2 separate regions of the Homo sapiens genome follow, and region 2 is linked to region 1. Evidence: fine-mapped expression QTL. A gene starts in region 1. The other region holds a variant in brackets. All regions are shown on one strand. Distances are between the middles of the regions.

The links. PIP is the estimated chance that this variant, and not a neighbour inherited with it, causes the effect.
Region 2: its variant is the best candidate, but not a certain one, in a credible set for the expression of PDE4D in whole blood (INTERVAL, PIP 0.57).

The regions. Positions count from the first base shown.
Region 1 is chr5:59,891,145-59,896,144 of GRCh38, reverse strand. PDE4D (phosphodiesterase 4D) reads left to right here and starts at 2,419. Exons shown (of 15, transcript NM_001104631.2): 1 at 2,419-2,977. The coding sequence starts at 2,523.
Region 2 is chr5:60,245,170-60,250,705 of GRCh38, reverse strand. It overlaps a transcript of PDE4D not described here. Among named protein-coding and RNA genes, the nearest start is that of PART1, 240 kb to the left of the region's middle. The variant C/G (reference allele first, on the strand shown) is at 2,941.

The DNA of each region.
Region 1 (5,000 bases):
GGTAAATAATTTAGCTAAAGTAACATGGGTAGGAAGTGGTAGATTGGAACTCAAGCTGTAACCTCAAAGATCACACAAGAAACTATTACTATCAATAACATTTTGGAATTATAAGTTAAATTAAAAACTCTACAAGTTGGAAACATATTAAATGATTTTCTTACATTTTAAAATGTTCCTGACTTGCAATTACATAGTAAAAACAAAACAAAGAATTTTTAAAAATCAGTGGGAAATATATAAAAGATAAAGTTTTCATGAGTAAAAAGGAAGGAGCAAATTGGTGGTGAAAATCAGGTTGGATTTGAATTATTCCAATTTAATCTGGAAAAAAATTATAAGTCACTTGTACTGTTAGTGTATGAGAAATTAGAATAAGAGTTTCGGATAGAGGTATTTTGCCACAGTTATATTGAGGCGAAAGGTGGCAAGCATTTCAGGGGAAAGAAGAAATTTGTGTACTTCTTTAAAATGGTTTTGGATGTTAATAATGCAATGAATTAAAAGAAAAAGGCAGTCTATACTGCAGAACACTTCCATTTCTCTCCTTTTGTGTTTGGGAAAATACTGGCTTAGTGCCCTCCTAGGCATGGTAAATACTTTGACCACTGCCACCAGTCACACTTGTGTCTGCAAAAGGGGCAAAAAGAGTGCCTTTGTAAAGTATGGTTTAATCCTACACAGTGGAGAGTGGTGCTTAGGAGATTGCCTTGTTTCTCTTAAGACACAACCTTTCTCAGATTTTGTGTATAGTCCACATATGAGCAGAGGGCTCATATTAAACTGATGGAGGAAAGGTATATTTCCAACCATAAATAAATAAATAGCATGAAGAGATGATGAAGGCCTTCTCCTGCCACTTGCACATTTCGTGGACTGTTCTTGCTGATAAACAAAGTGAGCACTTATTTTCATTGGCATTATTTTCCCAGTGGCATCTAGACTGTGTGGAGAGTGTTGAATTTTCAGCAGTCTAGAGAGTTTGAGACATGGTTCCTGATTCTGGTACTCTAGCATCCATTACATGATATGCTTGAAATGTACATATGAAAATATGTTAAGACTGAGTGTGTGGGAAGAATAGAATAATTACACAGCCAACAAGTTGTTGTGAGTCCTAAATATATTATCGTTCAAATAATGGATGGTACGTGGTAACTTCCACAAAGAAAAATTCTAGAATTATTTTAACAGTAAGCAAATTGCATTTCATCTTTAAGTAATATGGTCAAATAAAAAAGGTACAGGGAAAAAAGTGTCTATATATTGCCCTGAAATCCTCTTGGCTTCTTTAAAAAACATTTGACACTGCAGGAAAATGCTAATTAAAGGAAGACAAAAGTTGAATTTGGATTCTAGTGCCTCATAGGACTCTAATTTCTGTGAATATTGATACAACATGTTTTTAAAACACTTTAGTAATAGAGCTGTGTTCTGCTGGAAGTGGCAGAAAGGCAAATTGCAGGCAGGCACTGAAGATAGAGACTACCGAAGATAATCAGAGGTTTGTAATTGAAAAGGTGCCTTAACCTTAACTCTGGCCAGCGGGCTCAGCCATGGCTCTGCAACTAAGGACGACTCGCCTTGATTTCCAGCGAGGACCACTCCCGAGGCCAAGTTGGAGGAAGATCTTCAAGAGGAAACATTGGGCATTCTCCCTGCTGTGGGAAAGAGCCACACAATGTTTTATCCTATGTCAGGGAAAGAGACTGAATTAATCTTACTATTGGATCTTCACCCAGATCCAATTTTTCAGCGACGCGCATAGACAATATTCCAGGCAACTTTGCCTGGTCACATTCCTTATCTTTGGAAGCACCAGCATGGGGCTCATCGTCAACAAGCTCTGAGAACCAGCCAGGAATCGCCAAACTCCATTTCTCTAAGAGCACTGAGGCAAGCGGAGGTGAAGAGGAAGGCTCCGGGGCAGTGGGGAGCAGTGTGGAGGAGGGAGGCGCGGGCACGGCGAGGGGAAGGATCAAGAGGACAGGTCTGACTCCTGACTGGCTGGAGTGGTTTTGGTGAAAGTCACAGCTCGGGCGTGCCAGCCTGGAGCTGTCCAACTTTTCAGCAGCTCCGGGATCAGGGTTCCGGTGCCCTGGAGGCGGCTACCACTGCCGCCGCCGCCGTTGCTGCTGCTTCTGCAGCCCGAGTTGCTGACAATCCCTGCTCTCGCCGCCGGCGCCCAAAGGAAGGGAAGAAGAAAGGGAGGAAGAAGGACCAACCTCTGGCGAAACCGGGCACCGCGCACCCTAGTCTTGGTGACTTGGGGAGCCCGGGAGCGTGTCTCTGCCATAGCCTCGGTGGAAGGAGCCCTGCCGCGTTCTGTGACCCCTCCCGCTGGCAGGGCCCCCTCTCGGTAGCCCTGAGGCTCTGGCGCCTTCAAGTGAGAAGCTAAGCACCAGCCTCTGCTGGGCTGCAGAAGCGGCGGCGGCGGCAGCAGCAGCAGCAGCATCAGGAAGGCGCTCGGGCCAGCGCGGTGAACCCGGGCTGGGCAGCAGGTCGCGGAGCCGCGAGCCAGGATGGAGGCAGAGGGCAGCAGCGCGCCGGCCCGGGCGGGCAGCGGAGAGGGCAGCGACAGCGCCGGCGGGGCCACGCTCAAAGCCCCCAAGCATCTCTGGAGGCACGAGCAGCACCACCAGTACCCGCTCCGGCAGCCCCAGTTCCGCCTCCTGCATCCCCATCACCACCTGCCCCCGCCGCCGCCACCCTCGCCCCAGCCCCAGCCCCAGTGTCCGCTACAGCCGCCGCCGCCGCCCCCCCTGCCGCCGCCCCCGCCGCCGCCCGGGGCTGCCCGCGGCCGCTACGCCTCGAGCGGGGCCACCGGCCGCGTCCGGCATCGCGGCTACTCGGACACCGAGCGCTACCTGTACTGTCGCGCCATGGACCGCACCTCCTACGCGGTGGAGACCGGCCACCGGCCCGGCCTGAAGAAATCCAGGATGTCCTGGCCCTCCTCGTTCCAGGGACTCAGGCGGTGAGTGGAGAGCGCCCCCTCCCCCATTCAGGCAAAGGGTCACCTCCCCTTTTCTCAAATACTCCATCTAAGTCGGCTTATCACCACCAATTCTAGACCCAGGGTAAAATGCTAGTCTGGAAATTGGGGGAGGACAAACAGGGGTGTGCCTATCCTTTATTGAGAGTATGCTATTCAGGTGTGTGTAAGAGACCCCCCAAAAGTACTGCATAAATGTTAACTGGGGCCGTGTGTGTGTGTGTGTGTGTGTGTGTGTGTGTGTGTGTGTGTGGTGCGCGCGCTTCCCAGTTATCTGTGCCACGCACCAGCCCTCTCCCCACCCACTTCCATACCACCCTGGCTAGTGAGACTAAACAGGCAAAATCAGTTTGCTCTGGGTGGAGAAGAAGAGAAGGTGAAGGTTTTGCGGGATTTGACCAGCGAAAGCACCCAGCATCTGTCCACTCACCCTATTGGGAAGAGGGTCGGTGGGGCTGCTCTGACTGGGGAGGAGGGGGGAGTGAGAAAGCCTGGTCCCAGGATTGCAGCTAAAAGCCTAAGAACAACTCGCATTTCTCTTCGTCAGGTGGAGAAGTAAATTGAATAGCAAAAGGGGAGAACACGTGGGTGACTTGGAGAGTTTGGAGCAAAATGTTCAGCAATCCTTGAGAGAGACAAGGGGGTGAGGGAGGGAGAAGGAGCGAGGACGCTGTGGGAGTTACACTGTGTCGGTGTGTGCGAGCTTGTGTGTAGGGAGACCGTGTGTGTATCAGTCGTCCCTGCAAAATCCCAGGAAGAAAGCGCCTTGTTTTAGCAGCAGGCAAGACGTAGAGATTTGATTATAGTGATTTCCCCTTAACGTAAGTGCTCCGGAAGACAGGGCAGGGAAGCCGCCTATCAACCGGGAGTTTTAGTAGAAGTTGACCGCTGCTTCTCCAAGGAAATGAGTAAAGGACCAATTACAGCCATTCTGAGGAGTCAGCTCCAGATTCTTAACTCAGGCGTGGAGGTGGATGTGGGGCCCACGTTTGGTCCCTTTCCTGATAACCCAGGGACAGCTCCTTTCTTCCCTGTCCCAGGCCTTCCACGCCGTGAATCCCCTCCCCCACACAGGCACAGGAAAAAGATTTCAGGAGCTGCTGATCCTTGGCACATCTAATAGTAAAGTAGAGGGGTCGTCATCTAACCTTAGATGTGGACAGGCATCGATGTACTGCACCTCCAAGCCACAAGTCTGAACAATGGGCAGTTATAAATTGTAAATCAGGTCTGGGTGTGGAAACAGGAAAATCTAGGGCTGGGATTGTTTGTCCAACTCTGATTGACAGTAGGTTGGACTGATCAGAAAATCATAATGGTGTTCAAATGTGTGTTTGAGTTTTGTGTGTGTGTGTGTGTGTGAGCATGTCTCTCTGTTGTATACACTATGTACAAGGGAATCCAGCCAAACTATCATAACCCTGATGTGTACACATCATTTCAGCTTGCATATATGCTCTTAGCCCTTTGCCTGGCTCACACCCTTAGGTACCTTGTTGGAGATGTTCTTGTACCTGTTGGATGGGAAGAATAAGAATTGTAATTAATAACCTCAATTCAGATCAAAGACTGCAGACTTCCATAAATTAATATAAAAGTTTCATTTTTCAGCCAAGACTGCTAAGACCCTTTGTTTGAAGAGGTGGATGTCCTTCTCTCTCCCCTTTGGTTGAGCACGACACTATGTAGGACCCCAATGATAGAATGAAGGCAAGCCTGATACTTTGTATATTTGACCTATTAATAGAAAAATACCGTGTGATGATGAGCCCTTAATAAACATTAAATAAGAACAAGAGTTCTAGCTTGATCTGTGGGCTGATTGATTTTGTAGAGTTTCTTAATTGACTTCATTTTTTAATAAAATAGAATATGCCTGAGAGAGTGGAAGAAAGAAAAATAAGCTAATTGGAATAGAGGTATTGCATCATTGATTTGAATTTATTTTTTGCTATGCTTTCTACATTGATTAATTGTTCTATTTGAAATTTTTAGTTGAATGGTT
Region 2 (5,536 bases), 350 kb before region 1:
ATGTAGTACACATAATTGTGTGTGCTCTAATTTATATGAATGACAGCACAGTAGGTTTTTTATGCCAACATTGCTACAAACATATAAGTACTGCTTTCCATTATGACATTACTATGCCTATGGTATATTAATAACTAGGCTATAGGAATTTTTCAGCTTCGTTATAATCTAATGGGACCACTGTAGTATGTGGTCCATTGTTGACCTAAATGTCATTATATGGCACATGATTATACTTGAAAATAATCAAAGTTATCAGATAGAGAAGGCTTAGGGATGCAGAACCATCTTTACAAGTTTTTGCTGCTTTGAGACAAATCCAACCCCGACTATTACCAGCTTAGAGACACCTCCTAGCTGCCTCTAGAGATGTATATCATCTTTGATCAGGGACTGGGGACCTAAAACAGGAACAATAGCATAGCATGCTTTTATGTGCAATGAATTTTCAAATATTAAAAAAAACCTTCAATATTGTTGTTATATTATCTGCACAGTATTAGGAAAAATGAGTAATAACTTATAAGTGAAAAAATACCTATGCTGCAAAAAACTCTTTTAATGTTGACTCCAGTTTCAGCAGAATAAATTTGTCTGATGATAGCCCCAGTGTCTACAGAAAATATACATTTTCTATTACTGGGGTTACAGTGTATGTAGAAGCACTGTGAGAAACCTTGACATTTTGGCAGAAAAGGATTTTTAACAATAAAATTCAAGAAAAGGTCATATTAGTAGAAATTTTGGTAGTCATTTTAAATGTCTCCCACATTATATGGCATCATAAATGCATTTAATATCAGATTGAATTATGGCTGTAATCTTTAGCCTTAGTAGTCTGAACATCATTTCATACCTAGCTTAATATCCTGGAATGTTATGTGTGGTTTCTGCTTTATTTAAAATAGAGGAGTGACAAGGGTGATGAATACATTTTATTTCTGTTTTCTCATCCCATTTTCTATTGCAAATGAATTTTTTTTCAGAAGTAGGTATGCCTACCTGTATCTTTGCAAAATGCATTTTCAGAAAATAGGTTTGGAATATTCATTTAAATCCTATTTCTTGTGACCCAATGTAAACTCACTGCTGTTAAATCTAAAGTGTGTGAGTTCTTACAGCTGAGCAGTAATTCTACTGACATTTTAATGTCATGTCCTCTCCTTAGCAGCCTGTTTGCATATTGCATGCAGGCTACATGTTAGGATTTTTTAAAACATGAGGTGTCTTGGAAAATGATTTTGACACAACTTGTCCTCTTGGACCAACTGTATTTTATAAACATTTTAATGCTTTACTCTTGAATGATCCATTTCACTAAGAGTCAGAAAACTGAGTTTCTGTCATGCCATGGTGACATGATGCTGACATTGCTGAGCTAGTTACTTATTCCTTTTACCTAAATGTTTAATAGAACACACCCAGCCCTGTGTGGGCATGAGAGGGAAATGGGCCCAGAAGTTGCAGTGGTTGCATTCACAAGCCATTAAGCTGTGGTCAGTTTCTCCCTAAAGCATTGTACCTCCCTTAGACAACTTCCTCTTTGGGGAGTTGCAATATCTAGAAACTTCAGAGGAAGGGGTCCAGCTGCAGGGATATGGTTAAAAGTTTTTTCAGAGGAGCCACTTTGCATGGCAGTGGGCCATTTCCTGCTATCACTCAGGCCCAGCCTACCCACAAGTTACAGTCTTTGGCAAGAAACAGAAGGAAACAGTGGTGGCTCTTGGAGCCACATGCTCAATTTTTGATGGTGCTCTTTGCGCAGTGAATGCCAGCTGCTCCTCAATCAGGTATGCTGCTGTTGTTCTGAGAGTGATTAGGAACAAAAGGGATGATGCAGATGTGTCAGGCTATGGGAAGTGCAAATGTATATTTTTGGAGCACTGAATGTAAAGAGATTTAGAAGTTTCCTGTTGGAAAGCAGGCTATCGAAGCAGGCAGGCAAAATGATTTTGACACCAATACCAACCAAGGGCAAGAAGTGGAAGCTTGGAAATATACTTGTTTGGGAATAAGAAATTGATAAGACAAATATACTTTTTAAAAAGAAAGATAAGAGAGGTCATGAAAGAATTGTGAAGGTCCAGTCTGTCCTATTTCCTTTGCTACCACCTGAGTCTGTTACCATGGTCTCACTCTTGCATGAAAGCAGTCATCTCCTACCTAAGCCCCTTCTGTTCATCTTGCTCCTTGGAGGCTGGCCTCCACATCCTTGAAAATACAAGTCTGATTTTGCCTCTCCTCTGCCCAAACCTGCCAACAGCTTCCCAACTCATGAGGAGTGAGATCAAATGTCTTGCCATGGCTGACATGGCATTCTTGGGCCTGGCCCTGACCTTCTCTGTCCTTATCTTGCACCACTCTTACTGTCACTCGCTCCCTTCAGGTCCCTCTGTTTCCTTGCTGCTCTTTTATATGCCATCCCTCCTCAGGGCCTTTCCACCTTCATTTCTGATTAGAATATTCTTCCCCCAGATATCCGTATTACACACTTTCTCACTCCATTATCATCTGTTCAAATAGCACTTAAAAAGAGAGGTTCTGTGGCCATGCTATCTAAAATAGCACACTCACATGCACCCATGACTTTCTCTCCACTTACCCTATCTTCTTCACAGCACGTAGCACCACCTGTCATATTCTATCAAGTTGAACCATATGAAATTGCTTTTGGGTGGATCAAGAACAGCTGAATATTGGCCATTTCATTTGGTTCAAACTAAAATATATTTATTAATTTGTTTATTATTTGTATTTCTTCTATACTATGATTGAAACCCTGTGGGTCAAAGGTTTTGTTTTGTTTTTGGCAACATCTCCAATGTCTAGAGCACAGCAGGAACTTAGACAAGTTGTATTGAATTAATGGAAAGGAAGAAGAAAAGCCATATAACTTGTTGACAGTAAGCAGTGAACACTTATATGAAAAATGATCTCTCT[C/G]CCTTTCTCTGTCTCTGTCTTGTGTGTGTGTGTGAGAGAGAGGGAGAGGAGAGAGAGGAAGCACTAGAGGACTCTAGAAAAAGGTGATGGGATGGGCTTCAGAGGGAATCCAGAAAATTAAAGGATTTATTTGGATCCATGTAAAGTTCAGTGTAATGTTTCTAGTTGTAGCTAGGGGCTATGTATGCACCTATAATTATTATATATTTTTTTCCATGTGGTTTTCTGAAACTGGGACCAAGTGGGATCAAACAAGCTTTGGATAATATAATTGTGAACTGAAAAAGTTTCATAATTGGTAAATTACAAGGATTCAGCTTGCCAATTGTGCTGTAAGTTGATTTTTACTAGAGAAAATAAGTTACTTTTTACTAACAGTTCTAGAAACATGGCTAATAATCTTACTATCATCCCTGCTACGGATGCTTAGAAATACTGCATGTCTAATCTTGAAAGGAAATAAAATCATTACTATGGGTCAGAAGTAAAGGTTGAATTGAAAACTCCAGGGATAAACACTTGAATTGATACTGTGGCTGCCTTTGGGACAGTATTATTAGTCTCACTAACAAAGGGCTTGAGATATGAAATGGAAAATTGAGGTTCTGTGGGTTGGAACAGAGATCTTCAGTACAAAGTTGTGACCTTGGAATGGAAAGGACTGAAAAAAAATCATCAGAACAGAAGAGACAAGGAAGCTGTGTCTTAGAAAAAGAATGTCTCCTTCAAAAACACATCTCTATGGATTTGTACCTCATTTAGGTTTGGGAATTGAATTTGTACTACTTGTGTAGTATGGAAAAATCACAACTTGAAAAATTAACTACAGAGAGCCCAGATTACTGATACTTCTAAAGCACCTGGCAGAATCTGTTACAAACTTCTTAGGAGAAAGATACCATTCAACCAAGTTTCACAAGATTCCTAAACATAAATATCTTCTAAAGATTAACTCACAACCTCAAACTATAAAACATAAGAACAAAATCCCCCACAAGTGAGAGTTAGCAAACACAAAGAGCAGGATTAGAATAAGACCTAAAAGTGATGGAACTATCACATAGACTATGAAAAATGAATATTGAAAATGATAGAGACATAAATGAATTATAAATATAAGAAAAAATAAGGTTAAAAAAAGAACACACTTTATAAAGGTGAAAACTAAAGTAATTGAAATTAATAATTTATCATAGGTTAAACAAATTAGATATAGCTGGAGAGAAAATTAGTAGACTGTAATATAATTTGAAGAAATCAACCAGAAGGCACTGAAAAGAAAATGATAGAAGATATGAAAAAGAAGTTAAGAGACATGTTGGAGAGCATAAGATTCAATATATGTTTCATAGGCCTTCTAGAAGGAGAGCACAGGAAGATTTGGGAAGAGGCAGTATCTGACTATAATGCAATTAAATTAATAATTTAAATTAAAAGACAACAAAAAGAATCCCACATGGATTTGAAATTAAATCAACACACGTCTAAACAACTCATGAGTCAAGCAAAAAAATAATGAAAATTAGAAAATATTTAAAACTGAATGTTAATATTAATTAAATTCATCCATTAAATATTGTATGAGAAGCAATGAAAGTTATAGTTAGAAAGTTATAGCTTTAAATGCCTATATAAGAAAATGAAAAAAGGTACAAATTAAAAAAAATTAACTTTTAATTTTTTTGGCTACATAGTAGATGTATATATTTATGGGGTACATGAGATATTTTGTACAGGCATGGGGTACAGGCATGCAATGTATCATAATCACATGGGGTGTAAATGGGGTGTCTGTCACCTCAAGCATTTATTTTTTGTGTTACAAACAATCCAATTATACTCTTTTAGTTATTTAAAACTGTACAATTGAATTATTTTTGACTATAGTCACCCTGTTGGGCTAGCAAACCTTAGGTCTTATTCATTCTTTCTATTTTTTTTGTACTCATTAACCATCCCCACTTCCCTCCCTCCTCCACTACCCTTACAAGCCTATGGTAACCATCCCTTTACCATCTATCTCCATGAGTTCAATTGTTTTAATTTTTAGCTCCCACAAATAAGTGAAAACATGCAAAGTTTGTCTTTCTGTGTCTGGCTTATTTAACTTAACACAATGACCTCTAGTTCCATCCACACTGTTGTAAATAACAGAATCTCATTCTTTTTAATGGTTTAATAATACTCCATTTTGTATATGTAACCCGTTTTCTTTATCCATTAATCTGCTAATGGATTGCTACCAATTCCTGGCTATTGTGACTAGTGCTACAATAAACACGGGAGTGTAGATATCTCTTTGATATACTGATTTCCTTTCTTTTGGGTATATACCTAGGAGTGGGATTGCTGGGTCATATGGTAGTGCTATTTTTAATTTTTTGAGGAACCTCCAAACTGTTCTCCACAGTGGTTGTACTAATTTACATTCCCACCAACAGCATACAAGGGTTCCATTTTCTTCACATCCTCGCCAGCATTTGTTGTTGCCTGTCTTTTGGATAAAAGCCATTTTAATGAGAGTGAGATGATATCTCATTGTAGTTTTGATATGCATTTCTCAATGATGTTGAGCACCTTTTCATATATCTGTTTT